7 linked regions of the Homo sapiens genome follow. The protein of the gene in region 5 purifies or fractionates together with the protein of the main gene of each other region. This does not show direct contact. Each region holds a gene or a part of one and is shown on either strand. Other genes may lie near its edges.

Region 1 (3,500 bases), on a different chromosome or scaffold from region 5:
GAATACCAAATGACATACCACAAAAACCCTTCCAAAAACAAAACAGAAAAAGTTTGGGTTACCCAGATAAATAAGCTTTTTGAATTCAAACACTATAGGTTTTAACATAGAGACTTTCAGCAATTCTACTCATTTCCATTAGAAAGACACAGAAGTGGCACTTACTGGTATAGTACAATCCCATTTTGAAGGCATGTAATGTTCTGAATAAGTGAAAGAACAATAATAGTATACAAAATACAATTGCATGAATTATGTTCCTCACTACTATATGAGGTCATTTTTAGACTCAAGATAAGAGTTTTATAAGTGTTAGTTTTAAGATCCTGAAAAACTATAGAACAGTACATTCAAAGTCTGAATCAAGGAAACTCTAGTGGTTCAGAATCCTCTGAGAATGTACTAACCAGGAGTAAATCACTTTCTTTAGTAATAAGACATGTTTCATTGTAATTCAGCAATCCAACTCCTTTGCCCTTAAAGATGATCTCCAGCACAGCAGAGTTACCTAAAGTTAAGACCAGCAATCATCTTTTTAAAAAACAAGTTTTGTTAATAAAAAATAAAGGTAGACTACACATTTTCTGTCCTGGGAAAGAAGCGTTCATAGTGCACAGAAAGGACCCACATGGCTGTTTCCTGGGTCCAAAGAAATCCTGGGAAGTTTTTAATTGACTTTATTACACTGCTGCAAAAGGAAGCAATATCCTTCTGTTCCCTCTCAGTGAGGTAGAACAATTGACCTCCCAAATTAAAACCCAGGAGCAGATCTGAAGAAAAAAGGAGAGTTCAGGCAAAGCTGTAGAATTACATTTTGATGCCTTCCTGTTGACTGAGTTGCGATAATGTTTTCTTAATCCGCAATGCTGTAAGCCTAGCTGCTCCATTGGCATACCAACATTCTCTCATAATTTTAGCCATTACTCTCAAGGCCTACAAGAAAATATAAAAAAAAAAATTAATGCATGCACCATTTTCCATTGGTCTGGATAAGAATTTTTACGTGTAAATTTTCTTTTTAAATGACATATACACTTGTTATTGTTTAAGCATTATTTGTAATAGCAAATGAGTAGAAATTACATAAATTTCCATCAATAGGGTACTGGTGCCAGTGCTGGAAAGCAGGTGGACAAAGAGTGACTCATTTAGCAAACCTGAAAAGGCCGAATCCTAAACCAGAGCTGGGCAAAGCAAAGAAGAAATCTGACCTCACACTGAAATTTTAAGTTTGTACTTTGAAGTATTCACATCAAATTTTTCTTTCTTTTTTTTTTTTTTGAGACAGGGTCTCACTCTGCCGCCCAAAGTGGAATGCAATGGCATGCCCTCAGCTCACTGCAGCCTTGACCTCCCAGGCTCCAGCAATCCTCCCACTTCAGCCTCCCAAGTAGATCAAATTTCTAAAAGACAAAATCTAGCAGCACTCTCATTTATTAAACTATGTCACATGCAAATTCCTTAAGCATGCTGAAATACATTTTATTTATTTGGGCCTGGAGATGTGATTTTGTTGGAGGTAGCAAGCTCTCTTGCTTATCAGAGGTTCTGCTGAGTCCTACAATAGTTTAAGACGTAAAATCAACTACTGAACTGAACAGCTTTTTATAGCCTTTTTAAGCTACAAATCTTCAAACCTGGAGGAATATGCTCTGCTTCACCAATATTGTAATAGTAACAGCTAGCAATTAAGGAGAGGTTAAATAAAATTCATCTTACGAATCTTTAAATTTACAATTACAAAAACGTTTCTAAAACTTTTTGTTAGAGCTGAAGTTGAGCAGCTCAGATACTGCTGGAAAAAAGCATTTTCCCTAAATTCCTGGTTAACGGTTATCTGGGCAATCAGATGAATAAAACGGAAAATCATTTGAAACACCTTTGTAATCACCTTATCTGAGTTCCTCACCTTGCAAAGGGATATTAAAGTCCAGAGAACTAAAGGGATTTGTTCAGAGTCAGACCCTTGAAATGGTAGCCAGGCTGGTCTAGAATACAGGGCTCCTCATTCATGTCCGGTAACTGTCTAGTGTTCTGGGTTGCCCCGGCTGAAGGGAGGCATTCATTTAAAAATATGTGCCTTAGTTCGCCCGGCAGATCTAAACTATGTTCTGATACACTAAAGGCCACTGCAAATGTTCCATGGCCCTTTCAATGTGCTTACAATTGAATATGAAAACCAAATTATTCTGTTTTTAAACATTGGTTTGACTGCTATGAAAAAGAAAATTCTTAAAGAAAAGTTTTCCTTAAAGAAAAGTAGCAAACTTTTGCTTACTAAGCAGAAGCAGTTTAGAAAATTGCCTAATATCAAAAAGAAATACTCACTTCACAGCTCTGCCATCTGTTTGGGATATTTGGCCTTAACTTCTGTTCACAAACAACTTTTCTCATTTCTTCAACTGATGGGTCAGAAGGTACAAGATCATAATAAGGCAGTTGGTAATCTTCATGAATTCCTGTATCAGTTTAAAAAAAATTAAATTTTGATGAATTTATTCAGCTAATGCCAAGGCATTAAAAGATCACCTGAGAGACCTATTACAGTGTTTCATTACTAAAGTAGGTATGTGGAACAGAGATTACAGCTTTCTCTATCTCATCCACATCTGTATCCACAAGCCACTTCCCTGAGTTGATATTCCACCCACACCTTGAAACTAAGTATTGCCATGAGATCAATAAAGCCTATTTGAAATGACAGTAAACTATGAGCTGTGATGACCAGATTGACATTTTCCCCTAGAACCCTATTGTGCAGCAAATGAGATTCTATTCTGTAAGTGCACAGGCTCTCACTTGCACAGGGATATATATACCCTATCAGTGAGACTTGAATCTTATGAGGCAAGTTTAAGGTGCCAAGTCCCTTTCTCTACTTGCATCTGTCAATAATATATCCTATTTACTACAATACAGAGAAATACTCTGTCCCTCACTGCTTCAAAAACCTAAGGCACTAGGTCTCAGCCAAGTCTAGGTCCCCAAGCCTAAGAGACTGTTTCCTGAGTAAACATTAAAAGTACTCCATCTAAAAAGCTAGAAGTTAAAACAAACTAACTCTAGAATACAACACAATGGTAACATAATTGTATTCTGTGTATGTAACTGTAACTATCAAGTTGGAGAAAATAACCACAATCTCAAAGAAAAAAAATAAGTTTGACACCCAGGTACATGCTAGAAACAGCTTCCTAGGTGAGCCTCTCAAGCAGCTGTCCATTCTAAAGAACTATATTCCAATATAACAAGGGGTTGGGTTCTGATGAGTCTCCAGATTCAAATGGAAACAGGAAGAGAATACACTAGGCTAGAGCTGTGCATGTGCACACCATGGCACTGTCCCCTCCCAAAGGTTTCATCGCCTTTGTTTTCTCTGGCACTCGGTGACATCCTGTTTCAGATAATGGACTGTACATAATTTCATTCAATTAAAAAAAGAAGACAATTCTTGAACAACTTCTGCTCATGACAAACTACTGGGGGAGAGGAGAGCAATT
Region 2 (3,500 bases), on a different chromosome or scaffold from region 5:
TCAGATGTCAATTACAGGGTTAAGCTGCATAGAGTTTATAATTAGAATAAATGGTTAAATAGGATATAAGAATTTTGCCACACCCCAACATTAACCATGCATTCAAAATGGACACATAGAATTTATTACTACTAACACCTTGTGTTACAGGGAGAGCGAGGAGTACAGAGGGAATTCCTACCCAAATGAAGGAATAATATTTCCTCATTTTTCCCTGACAGAGAATATTGAAATTGAACATAAAGGGAAAATTCACAAAATGAATGACTGGCAGATTTATTGGCCCATTTTTATAGAATCAAACCAGCTTTAAGAATTGTTGGGTAGAACATGATCTCTACCTTAGGAAGCTATAAATACATTTCTCCTCCCCTCAGTACATCATTCAGAATGAATTAAAAATATCAGAAAACAAAATATAAAAGGACAGTTTCTTATATTCATACAATGTGAATGTAAAAGACACTGTATGAATTGTTTTAGTGCAGCCACTAAAATGGATTGGCTGGCTTTGGTTTTAATGAGAAATAACAAAAATTAAAATGCTTTTGAAGAAAAGGAATATGCAATTTAATTAAATATATAGTTTTCTGGTAGAGATATAGCATTCATTCCTAAAATGATTCATTAACAAATTATTTATTAAAGATGGCAAAAAGCCATTTAAAGGACTATAAAATGTGTTCAGAGCAAACTTAGAGAGTCTGCTTTTGCATTCATTAGTATATTAAAAGAGATAAGAGTAACTTATACATGAGGTGAATGTCCCCATCTCCTAAACCTGTGTAAATAATCATCTTCCTTTTATTCTGGTTAAATAACCAGTGTCAATAACAATGTGTTATGCTTATTACTGCATTATGAGATTATAAGTAATATGCATCTGAAATATGAAAATATGATCTTATCAAACCCATTGATTTGTTGTATAAAAAATTCACACATATACAAATATTAGGGATTCTTTAAATAGAAATATCCCCAGTGTGATTAAGAGTTTGTCTATTTATCTAAAAAGATATATAGATATCAAAAGCTAAAAGGTTGAACAGGTTGAGAAACCTAAAGCTAAAATGTTAGGAACCACTGTTTCCCTCTGCATTTCCAAGTCACATATGATAAAAATCCTTAACTATTATATTATAAATTGATAGGATAAGAAGAGATGCTTTAAAATTTCTTAAAGGATGTAAAAGTTTCTTAAAGCAAATCATTAAATTTCCTTAATTTGAAAAATATTAATCACCGTGGGGCCTCAAGTTTATTTTCACCACAATTATGAGAGAAGAATAAAAATCACAGTTTAAAATGTAGCTTCAAAATTCTGGTTGACTAATTTTGTGTCTGAGACAAGGTTAAATCTGAGCAGAAGCAACTTTACTCTACCTATATATATCGTGCTTGATACTGGCCCTTGATTTTTGTCCAGGTTCATAGTTTTCAGGTGGCATATAGATAATTGTCCCTCCTTCTGGTGCAGATTTGCTACTTCGTGACTGTGAGAGGGACATCATGCGCCACTTTGATAAACCAAAATCTGCAATCTGTAAGGGACAAGAGCAAATAATTAAGAAATTTCCTCTTTAAAAAGTCCAAAAGTCAACTATCTTTTTGTATATTCACTGTATTTAGATATCAAACCAGAGAAAATGTAATATATTTTAATATTTTATTTCTGTATATTCCCCCAACTTCTTACAAAATTAAATTCCACACTGCTGAGCCAAATAACTCTAGGAGCAATACATACTGAGTTAAAGTTTAATATAACATTACAAATTTCAAAAGAGAGACTAATTTTTGAAAATTGAGCAGAGGCATTTTTTGTCTGATATTCTCAATGAGTGTGTACCTTGCACACCTTACTTTTCATGACATATAGCTTGATACCATGTGCTTCCTACATCTCACAGAGCTGCCAAGTCTACTCACATCTCATGCAATTGTCACTGGTCATTGTTTACAATTCTGGTTTATACAGTTGTATTAATAATGCCCTAAAGGTAGCATCCTTAAATTAAGAAATACACTAAATCTCAAAATTGTAAAGGTAATTATTATACAATTTTATGCTGATCACTAAAAGAAGTATTTCATGGAAACAGTATAATTGCAAAGAAAACATATTTATGTCCAATACAATGGGTGCCTAAAGAATTATCAGTGACAATATTCTGTGCCTTTGATATGTCCTGTACAGTTTTGCTTCAGTTGTAAATCTTATGCACATATTATACAGTATCTTATAACTAAATATTTAAAAGCTTCCTTATTTTTTACTTTATTTTTTAAAAATGTAAGACAAAATGTAAGAACAGAAATAATATTTAATTGACAAGGGAGTATGGGAAATCCTAAAAGACACTGAAATTACTTAAAATATTTTACTGCATACTTTAGAATTCAGCAGAGTGAAATGAGCTCCATGCAGCACATCATTTGTTTCCATTGTTTACCTCCTATATTTTTTACCAATTTTAACAAAATACATAATTTTTATTAGCATTTAGATGAATTTGAGATAAAAAAAATTATGGCCTCCATTCCCAAAAAGGAGGGGTAGAATAAATGAATTTTTCATTCATTTGCTACAATAAAAGAGTCAATTTAAGAAAAAAAATAAAAATAATCAAGAATTTTAAAATTGAATTCACAGAAAAGGACCAAGATGACTAAGTCATGAGAACAGCTGAGAAAAGCAGTTAAGCAAAGACTTTCAGAAAAATTTTTAAGGACAGAATGAAGAAATATGGGCTGTATAATAGCACTTTTAGGAGTATTCCAGACAAACTGAATGAGTGTTCTCCAAAAGCGCGGATTAACAAAAGGACTGATATTGACCCAGATGAAGGTTCTTATGGCCATGTGATACAGCTCTGATTCAAGCTCTGTACTGGTTCATATTTAATCATGACTTAAAGATACAAAAAATTAGCTAATTAAATTTCAGCATCACACAAAACTTGGAGAGAAACTTAAAACCTTTGGATTATAGAAATAACATTCAAAAAGGTCTTAAGAGACTGAAGCAATTGCTCCAATCTAACAAGATAAAATTTGATCATATCTAGAAAGTATTCTGCAAAGTACATTATTTTGTGTACTTTGTTGCTTAAGAAGAGGTGGCTTAAGCAACGATACGTGGCAAAAAGAACCTCCAAGGGTTTTTTGTTGACACTAAGCCCAATTTGAACTATGTGATATGACTACCCCTGGAAAGCTGATGAATTATTAAGGAACTATTAAGTATTTAGGGCCAAGGAAATGACACTTTCACTAAAGTCTGCATTCATCAAACCGCACCAAAAATAGTATTGTGTTCAGTTCTGACGATCAACATTTAAGTGAGATTTAAACAAAATGATGCATCTACATAGCACCAAGGATTAAAATCCATGTAATAAGAAAACGAGTTGAAGGAACTAAAGGGTATTTATCAGGGAGATGGATAAAATGCACTTGTACGTGAGGGTTTGGGAGACAGCTCATAGCTATCTTCA
Region 3 (3,500 bases), on a different chromosome or scaffold from region 5:
GGCAGGGCCCTCAGGGTGTGAGCTAGGCAGTCACACTGTCCAGGCTCATGTTCCAAGCCTTCCACTTACATTATGGGCAGTTGGCCCAGCAATGAGCCTCAGTTTCCTCCTCTATGAAATGGGGAGAATCACACCTGTCTCACAGGGTTGTGGTAAGGAGTCAATGAAATGGAGAATGCTGGCGCTTAGCAAAGTGCCTGACATGTAGTGAGTGTCGATAAATGTCAACTGCTGTCATCATCAGCACCATCATCATTATTTGTCCTTAGACATCAAATGCCCCGGCCTGGCCCAACACATTGTGCCCACCTCTGCCCCTCACCTTTCTGACTTCACCTCCAGTCCTGCCCTCCCACACAACCTTGCATTCCATCTTGCAGAATGACTCGTGCCTTCACCATCCACCAAGACCTGTCACCCCCTAGGCCATTTCCCTCCCTGAATATGTCCTCCAGTGTGACAGCCAGCACAGCCCCATGTCTTTGGGCTCCCAGTAGGCAGGCGGGCAGCTTAACCCACAGGACCTCAGATCCCTACAGCACAGAGCAAGCTGGAAAAGCTAACAGTGGGCCCTCAGCGGGGAACATTCCACGCATGGCATCCCTGGAAGGGACCAGGATGACACAAAGGGAAACACTCCATTCACCTACTGAGGCCACCCAGAACTCACACCAAAGTCCTTCAAGACCTCACTCAATGTCCTTGGCATAGGAAATCCCCAATTTCCTCCCCAAATCCTTCCGCTCCTTAGAATTCTAAAGCATTGGACACATTTTCCAACACAGTCCTTTTGCACAGTCATGAGTAGCAGGGACCTTCTCACCACCCAGTACCAAAGACTGCTCTGGGATATCCGGTCGGAAATCTCAGACACAGGCCCAGTGAGGCCCAAAGGCAACAAAACTAATGGCCTTGGGATCTCCTGAGACTTCCCAGCCTCTGGATTGAGGGAGAGGCCTCCTGACAGTGCTTGGGGGTCTGGTCCTTTCAGCCTGAGCCACACCAGGCCCCCTCTGGAATGGCTGGGATCAAATGAGATTACATCTGCAAACACCTTAAAACTGTAAGGTATGCACATGCACAGACACACACACACACACACACACACACACACACACACACACGGACTTTCCATCATTAACAATAGGGAGAAAGAGGATGCCAAAAAATTACCCATCTGTCCAGACAACCAACGCCAATGGAATCCATCTGAGGGCTGGCAGTGACACAAAATCGCAAATTCAGAAATACTTTTAAGCCCCTTGCTTCAAAATTATATGTGGCTTTCACTCATGTAGGTGCAGAGGAAAAAAGAAAGGATTGAAATTTTAACTTGCGTTCATCTGGTTGGGCCTTTGAGGGAAATAAATTATTAGAGAAGGAAGTACCCTAACGAAGGGAGCCACCAAAGACCAGAAGGCACTCAGGAATAGGACCCAGAAGACCTGGACCCCAGGACCACCGCAGCCCAGGACCAGGTTGCCCATTGTGGGACCCTGTATGGCAAGTCACATTCCTGCTTCCGCTTCTAGCCTCCCCATCTCTGCAACAGTCATACTCTTGTAAGCTCCCATGCCTTGGTGAGAAGGGAATGGATAGGCAAAGGCTCTGGGCTGGGGAAATGGCCAGGCAGCCATGAGCAGCCAGTGCTGCATTATCCTTAGAGTTGCAGAGAGACTACATCAAGAACGACAGGACTTTAGGGGAAATACATTTATTGAAGGTACATTTGGCCCTTGCAGAAAAGTGGGGGACAAAACAGTGATGAAGAGCACAAACCCTGGAGACAAACAGCCCATGGCTGTCCCAAGAGAATGCATATAAAGCGGCCAAGTGGAGTGCCGGCCATAGCATACACTCAATAAATGGCTATGATTTTGGCGACTGCTACCATGGCATGGATGTGGGGTGAGGGAAGAATGTCTCAGATGGAGACACACAGCCATCCAGACATGCCCACAAGGTATGCAGCCCCAGCCTGAGGGGCTGTCAGTCCCAGCCAGCATGCCACCAGGCCACCATGCCACCAGCCATGCTCCCAAAGGGCCCCACAGACCTTGGTCCTGGCCCTCGATGTCCCCAGTCCAACACCAACCTCTCATTTCTCAAGGAAAGTTTGATTCAGGTATTCCTCCGGATGTAGGGGTCCCTATGACCAGCTTCTAACTGCAGGGGACAGAGGACTCCAAACCACGGTTCCCTCGGCTTCCTATCCCAGCATCTGCTGCTCAGGGAGAGACACAGAAACCACTGGCTTTGCCAAACTCCTCACTTGCCAGATCCTCCCTGCAAGCTCATTCAACCGGCTCCAATTCCCCCAATCTTCTGACCCTTCACATTGGTCCCTCCCCTGGAGTGAGGACAGGAGGAAGACAAATGTATACCACATCCACTTTGCTGCCTCTCGCAGCTGGGGGAAGAGGATCTCTTTCTAAACACGAAAGGGAGAGCTGTGCTGAGCTTTTATCATTTCCAAGTGAGACAAGAGAGAGACAACTGGTTAAAACGTGGTAGACAGGTGCTTTAAAAGTTATCTTCAGGTTTCACTCATACAGACTGTTCTTAACCCCAAAAACACCAGGGACTGAAACATTGGCAACCTTCCCATCCAAGGATTGGAGGAAAAGGGAAACAAAAAGAAGAGGGGAAGTCAAAAAGTCTTCCACCAAGCCCCCTCCGCAGCTGTCCCCTTCGATAAATTTCAACACAACAGCAATGCACAAGAAAAAATGCTGACCTGAGAATTCACCCGGAGCAGTGATGAGGGAGTTGGTAGCCTCCGTTTCAGTGTAAGACAATGTGGAATCGGACAGATCTGTGGGAGGAAAGAAAAAGAGAACTTAGTTGGCCGTGGGGCAGCGCTCTCTTTTTTCTTCTTTCTCATGCATCTCTGTACATGTGCACGTGTGTGGATGTGTGTGCTTGCAAAGGGCAGCATGTCCCTCCCAACTTTCTGATGTCACCCTGTAACCCCATCTCAGGATCACCCCAGACCAGACCAGCCAGCCCAGGAACTCTTCTGGAAAGTGCTGACTGTGGTGAAGCTGGTACCTGAAAACGCTGCCATTGCCCTGACCACAGAAATAACCCAAGTTCAGGGGACCGAGCAAGTAGCAACTTGGAGCCTCCGTGGGTAAGGTTAAATTAAGCCCCTAAACAATTCATAGTTGCTGTACTTAATTACAACCATTAAAATTCTTGAAGTTGTTCCTTCTTGCTTCCTTCCTTCCTTTCTTCCTTCCTTCCTTCCTCCCTCCCGCTAGGGCTGGGGAAACTGTTTTAACAAGTCACCAGCCGTCCTCACTCTGTCCCGCTTACACCCCTCTAATTAAGGGCTCAAGCATTTGCTCCCAGATTAACTTTGTTTTTTCTCTCCCCTCCCCCACTCCCTAACATCCAAACCTGCTCACAAGAGCAACTTTTAATGCCTGGACTGTTTTTTTTTAAGGCGTTCTTTTTTTTTTTTTTTTTAAGTAGTTTTAAGTACTTCATATGTACAT
Region 4 (3,448 bases), on a different chromosome or scaffold from region 5:
GTCCCTCTTTTCCACTTGCAGGTGTACGAGAGGCTAGAGAAGCTGCAGGCAGTGGTGGCGGGGGTGCCCGGGCATTCGGAGGCCGCCAGCTGCATCCCCCCTTCCCCGCAGGAGAACTCCTACGTGTCCAGCACTGGCAGAGCCCACAGTGGGGCTGCTCCATGGCAGCCCCTGGCAGCGCCATCAGGAGCCAGTGCCCAGGCAGCAGAGCAGCTGCAGAGAGGCCCCAACCAGCCCGTGGAGAGTGACGAGAGCCTAGGCGGCCTCTCTGCTGCCCTGCGCTCCTGGCACTTGACTCCAAGCTGCCCTCTGGACCCAGCACCCCTCAGGGAGGCCGGCTGTCCTCAGGGGGACACGGCAGGAGAATCGAGCTGGGGGAGTGGCCCAGGATCCCGGCCCACAGCCGTGGAAGGTAGCTGGGGAGACGGGTTCCCAGGAGAGGGACCAAGGCCTCTTTGGGCCAAAGCCCCTGTAAGTCCCCACCCCAGCCTTCTAGAAGAGAACCAGGGCCAAATGTTCAGCTCACTGTGACCTTAGCAACCCTGGTTTCCCCTCCCCAGGCCACATCCTTCCCAGGTGGAGCTTGCTCTCCAGCCCTCCCCCCACCCCATTCCTGAAGGCTGGGAACAAGGAGGGCTCTGTCTGGTAGCCTGAGAGCTGGGCCCTGCCCTTGGACTTCTCTGAGGAATTCAGGCCTGAGGCCAGGGAGGCAGGGTGCTAGGCTGCGGGCTGGGGAGCCACAGCATGAGGCTAAGGGAGTGCCATCTCCACCCCAGGACTGGCCCTTGGCAGCTCTGCATCATCGTCGTCAGAGCCACCGCAGATTATCATCAACCCTGCCCGACAGAAGATGGTCCAGAAGCTGGCCCTGTACGAGGATGGGGCCCTGGACAGCCTGCAGCTGCTGTCGTCCAGCTCCCTCCCAGGTGCTGCCGCCCAGGCTGGCCTCTGGGGTGCTCAGGCGCATCCGTGTCAGCCCCAAAGAGCAGAGTGTCTGTCCCGACTGCGCTGAGGGCGTGGGGCAGCCGGGCAGGCCACTGGCTCTGGCGACCTCTAGAAGCCCAGCCGGCCCCACATGCCTCCCTTAGCAAGACCCTGGCCCACTCCTTCCCTCGCCTCCTGACAGTAGCACCTCCTTTAGCCCGAGGGTGCCTGCCCCACTCTGTGCTTTCAGGAAATAGGAAGCCCCAGCAGGAATTTTCCATCCCAGGTACTATTTGAAGAACCACTGCTTAGGAACCCTCAGCTGGGCGAGGTGGCTCATGCCTATAATACCAGCACTTTTGGAGGCCAAGATGGGAGGATCACTTGAGCCCAGGAGGTGGAGGCTACAGTGAGCTGTGATCAAGCCACTGCACTCCAGCCTGGGAGACAGTTAGACCCTGTCTCAAAAACAAATGAACAAACAAACAAAAACCCTCAATTCCCACGAACGCCCCAGGAGATAAGGGAGCATGGCCCAGGCCTTGAGCCAGGGCTTCTGGCAGTAGGGGAGCCTCCCCCATTTGCTAAGCGGACTTTCCTCTTCCTTCTGTAGGCTTGGGCCTGGAACAGGACAGGCAGGGGCCCGAAGAAAGTGATGAATTTCAGAGCTGATGTGTTCACCTGGGCAGATCCCCCAAATCCGGAAGTCAAAGTTCTCATGGTCAGAAGTTCTCATGGTGCACGAGTCCTCAGCACTCTGCCGGCAGTGGGGGTGGGGGCCCATGCCCGCGGGGGAGAGAAGGAGGTGGCCCTGCTGTTCTAGGCTCTGTGGGCATAGGCAGGCAGAGTGGAACCCTGCCTCCATGCCAGCATCTGGGGGCAAGGAAGGCTGGCATCATCCAGTGAGGAGGCTGGCGCATGTTGGGAGGCTGCTGGCTGCACAGACCCGTGAGGGGAGGAGAGGGGCTGCTGTGCAGGGGTGTGGAGTAGGGAGCTGGCTCCCCTGAGAGCCATGCAGGGCGTCTGCAGCCCAGGCCTCTGGCAGCAGCTCTTTGCCCATCTCTTTGGACAGTGGCCACCCTGCACAATGGGGCCGACGAGGCCTAGGGCCCTCCTACCTGCTTACAATTTGGAAAAGTGTGGCCGGGTGCGGTGGCTCACGCCTGTAATCCCAGCACTTTGGGAGGCCAAGGCAGGAGGATCGCTGGAGCCCAGTAGGTCAAGACCAGCCAGGGCAACATGATGAGACCCTGTCTCTGCCAAAAAATTTTTTAAACTATTAGCCTGGCGTGGTAGCGCACGCCTGTGGTCCCAGCTGCTGGGGAGGCTGAAGTAGGAGGATCATTTATGCTTGGGAGGTCGAGGCTGCAGTGAGTCATGATTGTATGACTGCACTCCAGCCTGGGTGACAGAGCAAGACCCTGTTTCAAAAAGAAAAACCCTGGGAAAAGTGAAGTATGGCTGTAAGTCTCATGGTTCAGTCCTAGCAAGAAGCGAGAATTCTGAGATCCTCCAGAAAGTCGAGCAGCACCCACCTCCAACCTCGGGCCAGTGTCTTCAGGCTTTACTGGGGACCTGCGAGCTGGCCTAATGTGGTGGCCTGCAAGCCAGGCCATCCCTGGGCGCCACAGACGAGCTCCGAGCCAGGTCAGGCTTCGGAGGCCACAAGCTCAGCCTCAGGCCCAGGCACTGATTGTGGCAGAGGGGCCACTACCCAAGGTCTAGCTAGGCCCAAGACCTAGTTACCCAGACAGTGAGAAGCCCCTGGAAGGCAGAAAAGTTGGGAGCATGGCAGACAGGGAAGGGAAACATTTTCAGGGAAAAGACATGTATCACATGTCTTCAGAAGCAAGTCAGGTTTCATGTAACCGAGTGTCCTCTTGCGTGTCCAAAAGTAGCCCAGGGCTGTAGCACAGGCTTCACAGTGATTTTGTGTTCAGCCGTGAGTCACACTACATGCCCCCGTGAAGCTGGGCATTGGTGACGTCCAGGTTGTCCTTGAGTAATAAAAACGTATGTTGCAATCTCGGGCTCTACTTGTGGACTTTGTTGCACCGAAAGCCTTGAGCTTTCCTGATGCCTTACACTTCAGGGTTCTTGAGCGTCCAGGGTCTTGTTACTACTCTGGGCTGGCCACACCCAGCACTTCCCGTGTCAGGTTTTTCCTGATGTAGTCCATGTTTTTTATGCTATTCTAAATGGTATCTTTGATTTTCTAGTTCATCATGATATTATACAGAAATGCAATTGATGCTGGGCACGGTGGCTCACGCCTGTGATTCCAGCGCTTTGGGAAGCTAAGGCGGGCAGATCACTTGAGGCCAGGAGTTTGAGACCAGCCTGGGCAACATGGCGAAACCCCGTCTCTACAAAAAGTACAAAAATTAGCCAGGCATGGTGGTGCATGCCTGTAGTTTGAGCTACTCAGGAGGCTGACCCAGGAGGATAGTTTGAGCCCAGGACGTTGAGGCTGCAGTGAGCCATGATTCCACCACTGCACTCCAGCCCGGGCAACAGAGGGAGA
Region 5 (3,500 bases):
TAATTAGAAACTGTAAAAAAAATAATAATTCAACTACAGGCCAAATATGCAGCCATTTAGTAGATACATATTTCTAAGACATTAGCTGATCTTGCATTTCTAATATTGTAACTCAGTAGTATTAGTTTGGCACATCTTAGATTCAATTCAATTCAGTCAAATTAGGTAAGGTCTCAGCCTCAGAAATCTGCCTAGGTACTTTTTAAACATCATTTAGTGTTTACCATCTAGAACTGGCTGTAGAGAATGTTGGAATAAAAGAGGGGATGGGTTGCAAGAAGTGTTACACAGGGTAGTATAGTGGAAAGTGTTCTGGACTGAAAAAGAAAATTTAGATGCTGTACTGATTCTGCCATAATATATTTTTGTAACTTTGAGGAAGTCACCACATTTTTCTGGGCCTGTGGTTACTCATGTAAACTGACTGAACAAGATCATTTAAGGTCTTTTCCAGTTCTAAAATGAAAACACATTCATGTTTTCCAGTATTTAACTGTTTTCTATAGTAAGCTTAGCAGTTCTTTAAAGACTGATCATGGTCTCCTATAGAATTCAGTTGGTGACCAACTAATCCTGGGTTGACAGGGCAAATGATATCCCATTGTACAGATATTGACAAGCAGTCATAGAGTTTGACTTGCCAGAAGCCGCATGCCTAAGTAAATGGTAAAGCTGGGAATTGAATATGAGACTTCTCACTTGTGAGTCAGTTGCCCTTTCCACTGGATTTACAGTGTCACTCAGTACTTTCTGAAGTACTCTATAACCAAACCTAATATGGGAAAGGGGAAACAAAATACTGATTTCCTTTTTAGTGTAGTTGGTCCTGAGCATTTAATGAACATTCTCATCTGTGCGTAATACTCTGAGGTACTATAAAAGATAAATAGGGCTTGGTGCGGTGGCTCACACCTGTAATCCGAGCACTTTGGAGGGCCAGTGCGGGCAGATCACTTGAAGCCAGGAGTTCAAGACCACCCTGGCCAACACGGAGAAACCCCGTCACTACTGAAAGTACAAAAATTAGCTGGGTGTGGTGGCACAGGCCTGTAATCCCAGCTACTTGAGTGGCTGAGGCATGAGAATCGTTTGAACCCAGGAGGCAGAGGTTGCAGTGAGCTGAGATCATGCCACCGCACCCTAGCCTGGACAACAGAGGGAGACTCTGTCTCAAAAAAAAAAAAAAAAAAAAGATGATAGAAGAATCCTAGGATTACCTCCTTAAAATGTCTGACTTAGTATGATATCAGACTGGAGTAAACACAGAACAGTTAACTATAGACCACAAATTTAAAACTGAATATAGTGTAAATTAAACACTTAAGCCATAATTTGAAAATAGAGTTAATCACAGAAGGTTCCATTGAGTAGGGACAAGTTTAAAACTAGGTTTTGAATAAAGTGACCATCGTGGGTTGGGAAAGTCACTAAGATGAATTTTCTTTGTAGTTGTTCCTCTGCCTAAAGCGCTGTTCCCCCATAACTTAAGATGACTGACTCCTCACCAGTCAAGTCCCACCTCAAATGTTATTAACACTTCCTTAGAGAAGCATTCCCTGAACAACCTAGATCTTTTGTCATTTCTATTATCTTTCATGGTACTTACCAGTAACTGAAATTGTGTCTCTCCTTCAGCAAAATGTAAGGCGCTTTATTCACTTTTGTAACCCCAATGCCTAGAACCTAGAAGGTTCTCTATACATATTTGTTCAATGAGTACATGAAAGTATCACAGCATAATCATAAGAATTAAATGCCCATCTTGTTCTCTTATATTACATGTGATAAAATAGGAGCTGAGTTATGCGATTTGGCTAAGGCAACACGTTAGAAATGAGATCCGAGTCTTGTTTTAATGTCGACTCTATTATAGTTAGCAGATACTTTTGTTTAGCAGGGATAAAAAATGCTGTAAAGGGCCAGATGCTATGAGTAAGCCACGTATGGTAGGTCTTTACTACAGAGTGCTAAAAAGACACTATTTACAATGGTTGCTTTTGAAAAGGGAGACCCATAATGCTGACCTCAACTATAGTGTAGGAACAAAGCTATAGTATTGGACACATAAAATTACTGCAGCATTTGTATATATTCTTCAGCTTTGTTAAGGAGACACACAAAAGTTTTGTTTTAAAAGCTAAAATATGCTACAAAGAGGAGATATAGATAGAACTTAAACAGTTATATGTACTTTGTAGGTTTAAGTTATAAATATATGGGGAATTGGTATTAGAGAAAAACCTAATTTATAGTGGTCTAAACAAACTGAGTACATAGATTTGTTAGTCACTATTTAATTATGGATACCTAAAATAATCAATACATTCTTTCATGTGAAAGTGACCACTGATTTCAGTAGAAATCTGGAATTACTATAGTTAAGAGGTAGCTACAGAGATAATTTTTGCATTGTACACGTGTAGCTTAAAAGATAGCATGAGCATATTATTTGAAATAAAAGCCTAGAAAATGGGTGAGATGTACTGTGGCAGGTATTAAAAGACTGCATGAAACATTCAGAAGAAAGTTTGAATAATCAAAGCTTTACTTTTATGTTATCAAATCCATCTTGTCAGCAGATGGCAGTTCCACTCTGCCACAGTTTATTAATAGATATTGAAGTTCTAACATAGTTGGAGGCTCCAAGTCCTAACTAATAAATGTATGATCTATGCTTGTTCTGTCTTGTTCCGCATTTCCAGCCAGAACAATGCCAGCATCACCAGGGGTCCATTCAGATAGTTCATAGAACAGGGCCAAATGAAACTGACAGCTGTAGTCACTGAACTAAAAATAACATGAATTCAGAACAATTAAAAGAATTATTTAATAATAAATTAAGAGCACAAAGGCATACATCCTTTTCCATTTAGGTTAGGTGTGTGTTTGGTTGTTTTCTTTAACATGACTTGTCTGAAGGAATGGAGTCATCTTACATCATAAAGAAATTAATTTTTAAAGGAATTTCTTTAAAAATAACACACAAACACACAAAACCTGATTTTTGTTTTTGTGCCTTTCAATAGTAGTTGCATGGAAATGTTCTATATACCATCTCATATTCTTCTGTATTTTTTATTAAGAAATTAAATTTAAATCTACTTAATTGTATGAGACTAAAGTTGTAGACCCAAAACAAAGAGGTTTCAACCATAGGGGGAGAAATGCTTATCATAAAGTAATTAATCAAAAACATTTTGATTTAGAAAACATTCATAAATTTAGAAGGAAATATTTCCAAATTGACCTCCCTTTTAAAACCAAAGTCCTTTTTGCATTCCTCTGTTTTTTACAAATGAAGGATTATGAAGAATATCTGAAATATTTATTTGTATGTCACCATTTTAGTTGGATGTGTGTGATGGGGAAATACTTGTAACTTGATATGTTCTCTTTTTTACTCTTGATGAAAATTCATCTTTGGGGAAAAAACAGTCATTTAAAATAATGTTGGGCTAGGTACGGTGGCTCACACCTGTAATCCCAACACTTTGGGAGGC
Region 6 (3,500 bases), about 87 Mb from region 5:
TGTAGCTAGACCACAGTTGGGTTATCCACTCATCTGCTCATGGGTGCCTGGCTTACTTCCACCTTTTAGCTATTGTGAATAATGCTGCAGTGAACACGTGGGTAGAAATATTTCTTCAACACCCTGTTTTAGTTCTTTTGGGTATATACTCAGAAACGGAATTGCTGGATCATATGGTAATTCTATCTTTAATTTTTTTGAAGAATCACGATTTTTTTTTTTTTTTTTTTTTGAGACAGACTCTCACTCTATCACCAGGCTGGAGTGCAGTGGCACGATCTTGGCTCACTCTGCAAGCTCCGCCTCCTGGGTTCAAGTGATTCTCCTGCCTCAGCCTCCTGAGTAGCTGGGATTACAGGCACCCACCACCACGCCTGGCTAATTTTTGTATTTTTAGTAGAGAAGGGGTTTCACCATGTTGGCCAGGCTGGTCTTGAACTCCTGACCTCAGGTGATCACCTGCATCAGCCTCCCAAAGTGCTGGGATTACAGGTGTGAGCCACCGCACCTGGCCCACTATACTCTTTATAGGAGCAGCTGCACCATTTCACATTCCCACCAGCAGTGCACAAGGGCTTCATTTTTTCCACATCTTTGTCAATATGTGTTATTTCTTTTTTTTTTTTTAATCATAGGCATCCTAATGGGTATGAGGTGGTTTAGCCAGATTTGAAAGAAGAAAAGTTTAAAGGGTGGCATAGGATAATTAACTTAATGTTTGGCATAAAGCCCTGCTTTTTTGCCATGCTGTATTTTTTTCTCTTGCTTTTGATCTAGAATTACTTACCTGTGTGTTTCTCTCTATGCAGATGAATCTATAAAATATACCATATACAATAGTACTGGCATTCAGATTGGAGCCTACAATTATATGGAGATTGGTGGGACGAGTTCATCACTACTAGACAGCACAAATACGAACTTCAAAGAAGAGCCAGCTGCTAAGTACCAAGCTATCTTTGGTAAGATACCCTGGAAGGACTCAACGCCTAGCAACCTTGAACTTTCTTACTTGTGAGAAGGACATAGTGGAATCTTAAAATTTCTCTGATAATTCTTCTTGAAAGTTTTCTTATGTTACTTCTGCAAAATATCTTTGTAATTTCCATATAATTCCTTTGTCATTTATTTATTTTTAATATGGAGATAATCACAGTATTTAATTTATGGATTTGTTGTGAAAATTAAATGAGTTGATATGTATAAAAAGCTTAGAACACTGCCTGGCACATAGTAAGTTCTATAAAAAGTGTTAAACTTTCATCATCATCATCATCAGTATTACTTCTCAGACCCAGAAGAAATAGCTGTGTCAGGCCCTCATCGAAGGAGATCCTGTAAAAGATAGAAGACTGTGCCCTCCACAGCACTTCTGTAATAAAATCAAGAGGGCTATCTCTTATAGGGTTCTATGGTGCAGCCCATAATGCTAATCCCAAAGTACAGTCTGGAAAAAGTCATGAGGCCAAAACGACTTGATTAAGAACTCAGCTTTCTAATTAACCATGGGATTGGCGCTTTTTTTTTTTTTTTCTGTAAAGGAACCAATAGTAAATGTTAGGCCCTGCTGGCTTTGAGGTCTCTTGGAACTACTCACCTCTCTTATTGTAGTGCAAAAGCAACCACAGACAATATGTACATGAATGAGCACGGCTGTGTTCCAATAAAAGTGGATTTACAAATGCTGGCAGGAGTCAGATTTGGCCCACAGGCCATAGTTGGCCAACCCCTGGTCTAACCCATTTGAAGGACAGCTTTTAAAATACCTAGAACAGAACTTGCGAATGGTCAGGGGCACCTGTGAGAATCTAATGAAACCCAGGATCTACCCCCTACAGAAATATTGACAAAATTTGGAAAATATCTTGGGAAGTTCTTGGACTGCTGACAATCTATAAGATATGGATAGAGAGAGAGCCACATCACAGAGGGCTGAGGAAAGAAGAGAGGTGGGAAGGAAGAATGAAATGTTTTCTTCCTTATATTCTGTTTAATGAGGTAGTGTGGGGATTAAGGAATTTTTTTTGTTGTGGTTGTTGTACATTTTCATTTGTTTCCTTTTATTATTTTTATGAAGGGCGAAGGGAAGGAACCAGTAGAAGGAGAGAGGTTATGGCTATTGGAGAAGAGGCAATGTCGGTCGGCAGTGGGGTGGAGTAAAGGAGGGGTTAGGGTCCAAAAACAGACCTTGAAGAGTATAGTTACCTCGTCGCTTGAAAGACAAGGAAGGCTTTGTAACTGAATGGGTTCACGCCTGCTGGACAATTCCTTGATTAAGTAAGAGGAAAGTGAACTGTTGGGCCGGGGTGGTGGTCAGGAGTTGAGCGGCTTTAACTCTGGCCAGATGTAAGCGGAGAATGTCTAAAAGGAACAAAAATGGTGGTTTTCCCTTTACACCCAGGAAGGTCTAATACCAACAGGATCACTGGCTAAGATTGACTAGAACACCCAACCTCGTAGCCACACAGGGGTTTTGTTCACAGAGCCATCAGCTGTGGCTCAGGGATGTGTCTACTAGGAGGAAGGAATGCCTTATTCTTTTTTGTTTTGTTTTTGAGACAACATCCTGCTCTGTGGCCCAGGCTGAAGTACAGGGGCACAGTCATGGCTCACTGCAGCCTCGAACTCCTGAGTTCAAGTGATCCTCCTGTCTCAGCCTCCTCAGTAACTGGGACTACAGGCATGTGCCACCATACCCAGCTAATTAAAAAAAATTTTTTTTTTGGTAGAGACAGGTTCTTGCTGTGTTGCCCAGGACTGGTCTAGAACTCCCGGGTTCAAGTGATCCTCCTGCCTTGGCCTCCCAAAGTGTTGGGATTATAGGCATGAGCCACCACGCCAGGCCGGGAATGCCCTATTCTAATTCACATAAAGACTCCATGTGGGCTAGCAGGCATGTGAAATGTCTGCCAGTGCATCAACAGCTATATAACTAAGAAGTTATCTTTTTCACTGTCTTCTGGTACTCTTCATTTCACTTGGGTTTTTTAGCAATTCAGGAAGCTGGAATGTTTGAATGGGTTTTAGCTTGATACCTTCTTCTTTTTCCCATTTGGCAGATAATACCACTAGTCTGACGGATAAACACCTGGACCCAATCAGGGAAAATCTGGGAAAGCACTGGAAAAACTGTGCCCGTAAACTGGGCTTCACACAGTCTCAGATTGATGAAATTGACCATGACTATGAGCGAGATGGACTGAAAGAAAAGGTTTACCAGATGCTCCAAAAGTGGGTGATGAGGGAAGGCATAAAGGGAGCCACGGTGGGGAAGCTGGCCCAGGCGCTCCACCAGTGTTCCAGGATCGACCTTCTGAGCAGCTTGATTTACGTCAGCCAGAACTAACCCTGGATGGGCTACGGCAGCTGAAGTGGACGCCTCACTTAGTGGATAACCCCAGAAAGTTGGCTGCCTCAGAGCATTCAGAATTCTGTCCTCACTGATAGGGGTTCTGTGTCTGCAGAAATTTTGTTTCCTGTACTTCATAGCTGGAGAATGG
Region 7 (3,500 bases), on a different chromosome or scaffold from region 5:
TGCCTCCCCACACTTGTCATCGCCGAGTCACTTGTGGGCACAGAGGAGGAAGTTGCTGAGGAGTGACATCCCAAAACATATCTACAGGGCAAGAAAAAAAACATGCATCCTCCTGCTCCCTCCAGAACAGTCCCCCCAGGAGTGGCTGCCTGGTATATGAGGCTCTGTTTCAGAGCCGAGGATGAACCCAGCTTCTCCAGAACAGATTCCTTGATATTTCAGGGGCAGCATCTAAAAAGTGTTTCGGGTGCAGCAACTGCTTCTCTGCGCTCCGATAAGCGCCAGGGAGAACAAAAGGCCCAGGATACGCCCAAGCAAAAGCCAGTTTTCTGCTTCTTTCCAGGCAATAAACTTCTTAAATGCTAAGCTTCTTAGAGACCCCAGGGGACATACATCTCTTCTTGCCTCTACCTTCCAGGCACAAAACCTTCTGCTCTGTCCGTATCTGTTGCTGGTTCTTCTGTCCCCTGCCCTCCAGGACCACCTGGCTCCCCACCCCGACCCTGACCCTCTGAAACCTCCTCCCTCCCACCCAGGCCGGGAAGCGCAGCCTGCCAGACTCAGACAAGGCCATCCTGGACATCTTGGAACACGACCGCAAGGAGGCCCTGGAGGACAGGCAGGAGCTGGTCAACAGGATCTACAACCTGCAGGAGGAGGCCCGCCAGGCAGAGGAGCTGCGAGACAAGGTGGGAGTGGGGATCGCCCGCCCAGCGGTGCCCTCGGCCGGCCCCCTTCACACCAGGGGGCAGTGGTGTGTGTCAGCAGGACCTCCCTGACCCCACACTCCTTTCCAGGGACTAGATCAGACCCCTGGCATAAATCCCCTGTACCTCCCAGTATTCAGCCCCTGGCAGAAGCTGCAGTTTATCAACCAGATGAGGGCCTGGGGGTGGGAGCAATGTGGGCAGAGGGGAGGGTGAGGGCTTGGGATTGGGGGAACCCACATACCTGCCAAGGTGTGAGTCTCAGAGCCTCACCCACACCTTGCGGATTGCAGGATCCCAGATGTGCCGGCCACCCTTGGGCATGTACAAGCTATTGCACCAGCTTAGCACCTGTGTCCCCCTCCTGACTGAGATCACATTGTCCTCCCCTATGTTACCTGGTCTGTAGTGGGTTCACAACAATGCTGGGTTGATTGGTCTCCTACCTTGAGCCCCAACAGTCAGATAGTCGGTTCCCAGAAGGGCAGGCCATGTCCTGACCATGCCAGCTTAGGGAGGGACAGGCCAGCTCCAGCCAGCTGGCGGGAAGGCACGAGCAGAGAACAGCTTTCAGTCCTGACCTATTGATTGCTCGATGCGCATATTGATTTCTCTGTGTGGTTCACAGTACCTGGAGGAGAAGGAGGACCTGGAGCTCAAGTGCTCGACCCTGGGAAAGGACTGTGAAATGTACAAGCACCGCATGAACACGGTCATGCTGCAGCTGGAGGAGGTGGAGCGGGAGCGGGACCAGGTACAGGCACCACCTGCAGCGTGCAGGGCGGCGAGGCTGCACAGCGGGGCCCGCACCCCAGACCACCGGCTCCTTCAGAGTGTTTTGTCCAGTGCAACATCACTGACAATGCAGGGATCACTCCTGAATCCATCTTTCCCATTTCTGTTCCAAAGATGAATTCTAAAAGATGAATTCCAAAAGGCTTTTTTGGAAGTCACAGGCGTTTGGGTAGCAGGGGGATCCGAGCTGGGCTCCAGCAGCTCCCACGACCAAGCATGGTTCTTAAATGTTGTGTGTTCTCTCGGGTGAGAGGATGGGTTCAGATCCAGCCCTGTCATTCATAAGGTGTATGCCCATAGGCAAGCTGCCACCCCTGACCTCAGTGCCCTCATCTGTAAAATGGGGATAATTACGGTAGCACCGCCTCATAGGGACAGGCTGTGGCCTTCCAGGGACACTGCATCAAAGCTCTCAACACAGAGCCTGCCACTAGCAAGGGTCGGACCATCGGCTCTGTGATCGCGTTAATGAAGAAGGTAGTGACTGACACGCCCAGGGGTCAGACTGCAGACGAGAGCCACAGACGATGTGGCTGGCCCCTGGGTTGGGATGATGCCTGTCCCTGGGCCCAGCTGGATTTGGCTGGGGTGCAACCCCCAAAGCAGCCTTCGTCCCGCTTCTCCCTGGCAGGCCTTCCACTCCCGAGATGAAGCTCAGACACAGTACTCGCAGTGCTTAATCGAAAAGGACAAGTACAGGAAGCAGATCCGCGAGCTGGAGGAGAAGAACGACGAGATGAGGATCGAGATGGTGCGGCGGGAGGCCTGCATCGTCAACCTGGAGAGCAAGCTGCGGCGCCTCTCCAAGGACAGCAACAACCTGGACCAGGTGGGGCGGGACGGGCAGGACCCCACGCCTGAAGCCAGGTGGGCCCTGGTGCCCACTGAGGGCTGTGGCCAGTCCCCACCTCCCCGTGGAGACCCACACCTGAAGCCAGGTGCCCCCTGGCACCCACTGAGGGCTGTGACCAGTCGCCACCTCCCTGTGGGGCCCCAAACCAGAAGCCAGGTGCCCCCTGGCACCCACTGAGGGCTGTGACCAGTCGCCGCTTCCCTGTGCAATGAATGGCTCCTTGTCCTTTGTTTAGTTTTGTTTTGCTTTTGAGACAGGGTCTCACTCTGTCGCCCAGGCTGGAATGCAGTGGCACTATCACAGCTCACTGCAGCCTCAAACTCCTGGGCTCAAGCAGTCCTCCCACTTCAGCCTCCTGGGTAGCGGAACTAAAGGCACACACCACAATTCCTGACTAATTTTGTAATTTTTTTGTACAGACGAGGTCTCACTGTTTCCCAGGCTGGTCTTAAACTCCTATCCTCAAGCGATCCTCCCGCCTCAGCCTCCCAAAGAGCTGGAATTACAGCCGTTTGCCACTGTGCCCGGTTGGCTCTTCATATATTTGAAGCCGGAAGTTCCCTCCCACGCCCAGCATAATCCACATCTTTTACTGTTGTGTTTGTGTCTGTTTAGTGATGAGTGGAAGCCACTCATTTTGAAGTTAGAAGATGCAGGGTAGGGCTGGGCACAGTGGCTCATGCCTGTAATCTCAGCATTTTGGGAGGCTGAGGTGGGAGGATCGCTTTAGGGCAGGAGTTCAAGACCAGTCTGGGCAACAGAGCGAAAATTTTTAAAAATTTAAAAAATTAAAATTAAAAACATAAATAAGAAGATGCAGGGCGCCAGGTGCGAGGGTTCACGCCTGTAATCTCAGCACTTTGGGATGTCGAGGCAGGTGGATCACGAGGTCAGGAGTTCAAGACCAGCCTGACCAGCATGGTGAAACCCTGTCTCTACTAAAAATACAAAAAAATTAGCCAGGCGTGGTGGTGCGTGCCCATAGTCCCAGCTACTCGGGAGGCTGAGGCAGGAGAATCGCTTGAGCCCAGGAGGCGGAGGTTGCAGTGAGCCGAGATCACGCCACTGCACTCCAGCCTGGTGACAGAGCAAGACTCCATCTCAAAAAAAAAAAAGGCAAGCTTGACCTGGCCACTTCCTTGCTG

What was found.
Region 1: the proteins of MAP3K7 (region 5) and TGFBR1 purify together in Homo sapiens (affinity purification with western blotting; 3 studies listed by BioGRID). This does not show direct contact.
Region 2: the proteins of MAP3K7 (region 5) and RIPK2 purify together in Homo sapiens (affinity purification with western blotting; 4 studies listed by BioGRID). This does not show direct contact.
Region 3: the proteins of MAP3K7 (region 5) and SMAD6 purify together in Homo sapiens (affinity purification with western blotting; 2 studies listed by BioGRID). This does not show direct contact.
Region 4: the proteins of MAP3K7 (region 5) and IRAK1 purify together in Homo sapiens (affinity purification with western blotting; 5 studies listed by BioGRID). This does not show direct contact.
Region 6: the proteins of MAP3K7 (region 5) and RIPK1 purify together in Homo sapiens (affinity purification with western blotting; 5 studies listed by BioGRID, with this or other methods). This does not show direct contact.
Region 7: the proteins of MAP3K7 (region 5) and CARD11 purify together in Homo sapiens (affinity purification with western blotting; 3 studies listed by BioGRID). This does not show direct contact.

The regions. Positions count from the first base shown.
Region 1 is NC_000009.12:99,146,613-99,150,112, reverse strand, and holds part of TGFBR1 (TGF-beta receptor type-1 isoform 1 precursor), read right to left. Parts: intron 2,460-3,500; coding exon 2,329-2,459; intron 934-2,328; coding exon 808-933; 3' UTR 1-807. UniProt on the Homo sapiens protein: Transmembrane serine/threonine kinase forming with the TGF-beta type II serine/threonine kinase receptor, TGFBR2, the non-promiscuous receptor for the TGF-beta cytokines TGFB1, TGFB2 and TGFB3.
Region 2 is NC_000008.11:89,767,816-89,771,315, reverse strand, and holds part of RIPK2 (receptor-interacting serine/threonine-protein kinase 2), read right to left. Parts: intron 1,545-3,500; coding exon 1,387-1,544; intron 1-1,386.
Region 3 is NC_000015.10:66,715,736-66,719,235, reverse strand, and holds part of SMAD6 (mothers against decapentaplegic homolog 6), read right to left. Parts: intron 2,816-3,500; coding exon 2,738-2,815; intron 2,228-2,737; exon of another isoform or gene 2,096-2,227; intron 1-2,095. UniProt on the Homo sapiens protein: Transforming growth factor-beta superfamily receptors signaling occurs through the Smad family of intracellular mediators. SMAD6 is an inhibitory Smad (i-Smad) that negatively regulates signaling downstream of type I transforming growth factor-beta.
Region 4 is NC_000023.11:154,010,007-154,013,454, reverse strand, and holds the end of IRAK1 (interleukin-1 receptor-associated kinase 1), read left to right. Parts: intron 1-21; coding exon 22-412; intron 413-776; coding exon 777-926; intron 927-1,537; coding exon 1,538-1,596; 3' UTR 1,597-2,948; downstream 2,949-3,448.
Region 5 is NC_000006.12:90,580,573-90,584,072, reverse strand, and holds part of MAP3K7 (mitogen-activated protein kinase kinase kinase 7), read left to right. Parts: intron 1-3,500. UniProt on the Homo sapiens protein: Serine/threonine kinase which acts as an essential component of the MAP kinase signal transduction pathway. Plays an important role in the cascades of cellular responses evoked by changes in the environment.
Region 6 is NC_000006.12:3,109,994-3,113,493, forward strand, and holds part of RIPK1 (receptor-interacting serine/threonine-protein kinase 1), read left to right. Parts: intron 1-809; coding exon 810-962; intron 963-3,059; coding exon 3,060-3,346; 3' UTR 3,347-3,500. UniProt on the Homo sapiens protein: Serine-threonine kinase which is a key regulator of TNF-mediated apoptosis, necroptosis and inflammatory pathways.
Region 7 is NC_000007.14:2,935,868-2,939,367, reverse strand, and holds part of CARD11 (caspase recruitment domain-containing protein 11), read left to right. Parts: intron 1-536; coding exon 537-689; intron 690-1,335; coding exon 1,336-1,461; intron 1,462-2,133; coding exon 2,134-2,331; intron 2,332-3,500. UniProt on the Homo sapiens protein: Adapter protein that plays a key role in adaptive immune response by transducing the activation of NF-kappa-B downstream of T-cell receptor (TCR) and B-cell receptor (BCR) engagement.